Linked DNA regions of Homo sapiens. Changing the gene in region 1 together with any one later gene gives a genetic interaction. Each region holds a gene or a part of one and is shown in the gene's direction. Other genes may lie near its edges.

What was found. Genes that interact genetically often act in the same process or in processes that back each other up.
Region 2: changes in RAB5C (region 1) and FUT8 together harm fitness more than expected from each alone (negative genetic interaction), as found in Homo sapiens cells (one large-scale study listed by BioGRID).

The regions. Positions count from the first base shown.
Region 1 is NC_000017.11:42,127,629-42,131,037, reverse strand, and holds part of RAB5C (ras-related protein Rab-5C), read left to right. Parts: intron 1-447; coding exon of another isoform or gene 448-535; coding exon 536-701; intron 702-2,237; coding exon 2,238-2,389; intron 2,390-2,654; coding exon 2,655-2,777; intron 2,778-3,409. UniProt on the Homo sapiens protein: The small GTPases Rab are key regulators of intracellular membrane trafficking, from the formation of transport vesicles to their fusion with membranes.
Region 2 is NC_000014.9:65,415,689-65,419,342, forward strand, and holds part of FUT8 (alpha-(1,6)-fucosyltransferase), read left to right. Parts: intron 1-3,654. UniProt on the Homo sapiens protein: Catalyzes the addition of fucose in alpha 1-6 linkage to the first GlcNAc residue, next to the peptide chains in N-glycans.

The DNA.
Region 1 (3,409 bases):
TACCAGACTGGAACTTCATTATTGATCTAAATCCTAGTGTCTTCCTGAGCTTTTGTTTTGTTTTGTTTTGTTTTAATTTTGCCCCAAAAGCCTGTTGACTTAACTGTCACCAGGCTGTCACACATTCATTCATCGCCTGTGTGTGTTTATTTGTAGGTGAATGTACATATTTGGGATCCAGAAGTCAATGTGTTTGCTCAGAACCATGAGCCTGAAGTTGGGAGACCATTCTCCTCTTTACAGCTCAGATGGTGGTAGAGCCGGTAGACATCTAGTATAGCCCAGTGGGGCCTCCTGACCTCTAGTGGGGAGGGCAGGGAGGTGAGGTGAGGGGAAGCAGTCAGCTAGGTCTTCAGTGAGGCCAGAGGGAAAGATCTGTAATTTAAGAAGGACACAGCGGGTGACGGCCTCTGAACTAACTCAGTACTTCTCATTTCTCCCTTACAGTTGGAGGTCCCCCTCCCCACTAAGTGCCTCTTTGCATAGCACCAGTCCCCACCCGCACGCTCTCTGGACCACTACAGCTGGACGGGCAATGGCGGGTCGGGGAGGCGCAGCACGACCCAATGGACCAGCTGCTGGGAACAAGATCTGTCAATTTAAGCTGGTTCTGCTGGGGGAGTCTGCGGTAGGCAAATCCAGCCTCGTCCTCCGCTTTGTCAAGGGACAGTTTCACGAGTACCAGGAGAGCACAATTGGAGGTGAGTGGGCATGAGGGAGTCGGGGAGGGGCCTGAAGGTTGCCAAAGAAATGCTTTGACCTTGAGGAGATGGGAAGCTGCCTGCCTGCATTAGGGACTAAATGCGTCTGTGGTGGCAGCCCCACTTCCTCACCTGGGCCCTGGAATTGAGCCCAGCAACTGGTCTCCATGCCAGAGTCCCCTCAAGCATCGCTAGTAAGCATTTGCTGGGAGTGGAAAGCTAGCTTCCCATCCTGTTTCTGCCCCTTCTTGATCTGTGTGGCCTTGGCTGAGGCCCTTTCACTGCCCTGGCCTCATGGAGGGAGAGCTGACTCTGGATCTTTGAGGCCCCTTCTTACTATAATGGGTGGTCCATGTGCCCTGGCCTTTCCCACTTCCAGAAGAAGGAACAGCCTGGTGAGTCGGAGCTGGGTGATAGGTGGGTGTTTCTGAAGCTGACTTTACCCTTTCTGGAGCTCACAGCCTGTTGTTGATTTTCCAGTGGTCAGCATTTAGGATGTGAGTGAGGGTCTGGCCTCGGCCTCTTGCCTCCGTGGCTAACACACACATCAAGAGGCAGGGGCCAACGCTGGCCTTGGCCTTGAGTCATCCTTTCTCTACTCTCTTGGTAGGAGGTTTCTAGGCAGCTGGAAACAAAATGGGCCATGTCAGCAGTCTCCCTGCTGCCTCCTCAGCATTTGGGTCAGGAGCTGGAGAGGGGAAGTGAGGCAGTGCCCCATGTCCCTCAGTGAGCTGGGGGAGGGCAGACCAGGAAAGCAGCCTTCTACACATGGCTGTCCTGGGTTCTCTGCTGGGTCCAGGGGCAAAGGGGCCTTTTGCTGTCTGTCCCAGCTCTGGACTCCTCCTTTGAAGCATGTGTACAGGCACCCTGCATTCCCCTAAGGAGTCACCTCTTAGTGACTGAAGGTCAGGTCACAGGGTGGCCATACAGGAACAGGTCTGGGTCAGAGCTAGGGGCGGTGGCTAGCTGGAGTGCCTGGAGGTGGTAGGGGTGGTTGGGAAGCCGGCCACCCAGCCTCAGCCTGGTGGTGGAACAGTGTGTACTTCCCCAGCATAGCTAAGTGTGTGAGAATGTCCTTAGGAAACCCAAGGTCAGTGACACCCCTGGGCTGGAGCAAACTGAGGGGTGGAGCGGTCCCTAGCTGCTGGTCTGTTCTCTGAGTGGCGGAGGAGGAGGTCTGAGGGCGCTCACCCTTCTGTGCTTGGAGTAGGCTTCCCCTAGGCTTTCCCTCTCTTGCCCCTGCTGTGTTGCTCTTCAGAGAGTGGTCCTGAGATGGCTCAGTGCATGCAGGAGTCCCTTCTCCTGCCGTTGCCTGGGCTGGGTCTGCAAAGCCTGTGCAGACCCCGTCCCCCAGACACATACATAAAAATCCAAACTCCACCCCCCACTCAGGCCTGCTTTGGCTCCTGGCTTGAGGGTTCTCTGTGCCCATCTCAGTGGTGGGCTTCTGAGTGCCAGAGCCTAGAAGCAACAGTGGGATTGTGTGGGGTGGATTCCAACTCGCTCTTGCCCATGGACGCTCCTTCTCTCTTACAGCGGCCTTCCTCACACAGACTGTCTGCCTGGATGACACAACAGTCAAGTTTGAGATCTGGGACACAGCTGGACAGGAGCGGTATCACAGCCTGGCCCCCATGTACTATCGGGGGGCCCAGGCTGCCATCGTGGTCTATGACATCACCAACACAGTAAAGATTTCCCCTTGCTTCTTCCTTTGCCCTTCATCTTCTCAAAGTCCCAGGGATTGGGTTATCAGAGCCCTGATTTCAGGCCGCTTAACCCTCTGTTCCTGGGTGGGGGGTGGGCAGATTTCCTGTTTGGGGACATTGCATCAGAATCTTTAGGTGGCAATGTCTTAGATAATTTGGCTGTGCCAGCTTGAGAGTCTCTAATGGGTGGCCCTGGGCAGAATGCCTTCTCTGTCCCTTCGACATTCTGTCCCTGTCTCCTCAGGATACATTTGCACGGGCCAAGAACTGGGTGAAGGAGCTACAGAGGCAGGCCAGCCCCAACATCGTCATTGCACTCGCGGGTAACAAGGCAGACCTGGCCAGCAAGAGAGCCGTGGAATTCCAGGTGGGGAGATGACAGACTTGGGGGAAGGAGTGGAGTAAGCAGCTCCCCCCGGCCTCGCCTGGGATGCTCAGGGGCTTTGGGAAGGGCCATGCTAGGAGGCAACAGGGAAGCTTCCATCTGCTGTCCTCTCGTGCCTCAGGCATGGGCCTAACATGGCTCCTGTCTGTAATCCCAGTGCCTTGGGAGGCTGGAGTGGGAGGATCACTTGAGGCCAGGAGTTCGAGACCAGCCTAGGCGACACAGTAAGACTCTGTCTCTGCAAAAGATTTAAAAATTAGCTGGGCTTGGTGGCACGCACCTGTAGTCTCAGCTGCTCAGGAGGCTGAGGCACGAGGATTGTTTGAGCCCAGGAGTTTAAGATTGCAGTGATTGCAACACTGCACTCCAGCCTGAGCAAGAGTGAGGCCCCATCTCTTTAAAAAAAAAAAAAAAACAGCCAGGTGTGGTGGCACACACCTGTAATCCCAATACTCTGCAGGCTGAGGCGGGAGATCACTTGAGCTTAGGAGTTCGAGACCAGCATGGGCAATGTGGCGAAACCCCATGTCTAAAAAAATACAAAAGTTAGCTGGGCATGGTGGTGTGCTACTCAGGAGGCCGAGGTGGGGAGGATCATTAGAGGCCAGGAGATT
Region 2 (3,654 bases), on another chromosome or scaffold:
TTTTTTTTTTAAAGTAGAGATAATTCCAATAAAAAAATGGACCTTTTAGACATCTGGAGAACAATATCCCCAGGTCACTTAACCCTTATCTCCTGCAGTATAATGCAGTGCGTCCAGCTGATCTACCAAATTGAATGTGTGCCTTTGAATACGAAGCAGTTGTTTTGTGGCCTGTGGCATTTCATTTAGGTTTCTAAGCTGTAATAAATTAGTATGTTAATTTACTTCTTTCCATTCACATATTCTTTAAATCCAAGCCTAGAAACTGATAGTTATATGTATATTAAAATCATTGGAATATTGGTTTTTTTGCAGATAGTGTTTGGGCTGTTTATTATCCATAGCTCTTCATTATGTAAATAGAATCTCAATGCTGATAAAGTAAATAGATTCTTCCATTTCATTAATGGTTATTTTTGATTTATGATAAACTGCATTTAATAAATCTCTTGATTTAGTTAAATGGTGGATACATCATTTCATATTATAGCAAATTGATAAATATAAAAGAAAGTTTTACAATCATAAGAGTAAATATTTAAAAAAACTTGAATAAGTTACTTTACTAAACATAAAATTAAGATTTTTAAACAACTCTGAAACTAAAAGTATTACTATTATGGTACCTTTTTTTTTTTTTCCCCCAAAGAGATGTGATCTTGCTGTTTTGTCCAGGTTGGCCTTGAACTCCTGGGCTCAAGCAATCCTCCTACCTCAGTCTCTTGAGTAGCTGGGACTATAGGCATGTGCTACCACAGCCAGCTTTATTATAGTACTTTTGTACCCTGCATCAATGCTGCTTCTGTTGATACTTTTCAAAGGAGATATCAACTTCTGGTCTTCAACAGTAGTGTAGCATCCTCTTATTGATTCTCTGGCTCATATTTCACTACCGTATAGTATGGAGTTTCTTTCTTGGAGTTTGAATTGTTTTTACATTGCAGCTTGTTATAGTGAAACAATTAAACATATTTAAAAGTAAAAGATATTTACGACTGATTTTTAAAGAACCTGTAAAAAAATCTCCAACAGAAGAATATTATATGGGGATGTGTAGATTTAACATTTTATTTTCTTTAATTTTTTTTTTTTTTTTTTTGAGATTGGGGTTGGGGGTTGTCTCTCTATGTTGCCCAGGTTGGAGTGCAGTAGTGGCGTGATCACGGCTCACTGCAGCCTTGAACTCCCTGGTTCAAGCCATTCTCCCGCCTTAGCCTCTGGAGTATCTGGGATTATGGGTGCATGCCACCATGCGTGGCTAATTATTTTTTAATATTTGTAGAGATGAGACCTTGGTATGTTGCCCAGGTTTGTCTTGAACTCCTGGGGTCAAGTGGTCCTCACACCTTGGCCTCCTAAAATGCTGGGATTACAGGCGTGAGTCACTGTACCCGGCTCCTTTATTTTATTAAAAAGATTTTTGTTTGTTTGTTTGTTTCTAAGTTTAAAAGAGACAGGGTCTTGCCATGTTGCCCAGGCTGGTCTTGAACTCCTGACCTCAAGTGATCATCCCACCTTGGCCTCCCACAGGCGTGAGCTACCATGCTTGGTTGTAAGATTTTTAAAAAATGGATTAGTTTCAAATCTCAACTTCTCTTTCTTTCAACATTCTAATCTCCTGGCATTTTTTTCCTTTCCCCAGCTACCCCCCATCATCCAACAGTCTTCCATTTGGAATAATGGGAAATCAAACCAATAAAGTTAATCTTACCTCCCACCAGGCAAAGGTTTTTCTTAATCTCTACAATATTCTGAACATAAAACCCATATAAACTTTATATGATACTACACATTTTCCTTTTAACGGAGGAAGAGCAAATGGGACCTATGGAATTATGCCGTATTTGTCAATATAAGGGTTACTTTTGTACTCTTACTGAAAGCAGAGTTATAGGGCTAATTTCATTTAAATTTTCTTACCCATCTACTTTAAAAAAATACCTCTTTGTGGTAGTCTTTTTTTTGGTCAGAAAATGACAATGTGAAGGAGAAATACGTTTTGAATTTATAAATCTTCTTTTAATTAACAAATTATACCAATATAAGGGTAGTGTTAATGTGGTTCAAATTTGCCTTTGCTATTCTGCCTTTTCTTCTATAGTGATTGTATAGTTATACTATAACTTCTTCCTCGAAGCACTGGAATAAAAGAAAAACTTTTAAAGATCACTACGAAATGCTCACTGTATTTGTTGTATTTTATAACTTGGGTTTTTAAAATTTATTTTTCCATAAACTGAATAAATATGAAAACGAACTTGAAAGATCTTGTCACAGCCTTGATGACTGGTCAGTATAAAGTTCACATTATAAAATAATAAAACATTGATAATAATCTTAGATGAAAATGGAAAATTAAGCTAATGTTTATTTTAGAACCTGAGTAATGAGTTTATATCATGTAGCAATGAGGCACATGAAGACGGTTAGAATTAGTTTTTCTAATGAATAAACTTCATGATATAAACTTGAAAGTGCATAAATGCTATAACTTTCTGATTGTAAACTTGAACAAAAGTAAAATGAAAATGGGAGAGTCCTCTTAATTACCTTTAACGTATAACTAAAATGAACCTGTGTATCTGTCTAAGTCTTATTTGATCAAGACTTTCAATGGACAATGAATGAGTTTTAAGTTTTTATCAATGTTGTGACTGATTTTTCTATAATATCCCTTAAATGAGATATCAAATTCTAATAATATCTAGAACCAGATTAAATTTGGTTAGAGTATAAACAATATTTACAAACCATCAAAACTATAATAAAAGCATTGTAATGTTATTTAATGACTTAAGCCAACATTCCATAAGCTAATCTAAGCATTTTTACAATTAATACAATTGATAGTAATATCTTAATTAGTGGTAAAGTGGACAGATATAATTTATAGATTCTGTATTGTCTGGGACCTTGGGGCAGTCAGTGAAGAGAGGGAGATAGAGAGAGGAGCATACTGGTTGATGAGCTTGCCTTATTTGGAGATGAAGGAGATTTATTCAGTTTTTCTCTTTCCCTCTACTTACTTCTCCTTGTTTGTCATCCTCTTCTAGCAATGGTAAGAAATGCGGGAATTGACCATCTTTACAGTATACTTTTTTCCTTAGAGTTCATAGAACATTTCCAGGTAAAACATTAGCTTTTATGTTATAATAGGTTTATTATAATGATATCATTTCCTTTTGAGGTGGTAGGCAAGAGACTAGAAGAACTTCATTTGTATAGCATTTAATATTATTTATTAAAAATGATTTTATAGGCCGGGCGCGGTGGCTCATGCCTGTAATCCCAGCACTTTGGGAGGCCGAGGCAGGTGGATCACCTGAGGTCAGGAGTTGGAGACCAGCCTGACCAACATGGAGAAACCTCATCTTTACTAAAAATACAAAATTAGTCGGGCATGGTGGCACATGCCTGTAATCGTAGCTACTTGGGAGGCTGAGGCAGGAGAATCACTTGAACCCGGGAGGCTGAGGCAGGAGAATCACTTGAACCCAGGAGGCGGAGGTTGCAGTGAGCCGAGATCTTGCCATTGCACTCCAGCCTGGACAACAAGAGTGAAACTCTGTCTCAAAAAACAAAACAAAACAAAAAAACAAAAACAAATTCTAACCTTCATGTGCCTCATTACTGTAATGTAAAAAAAAAAACTAT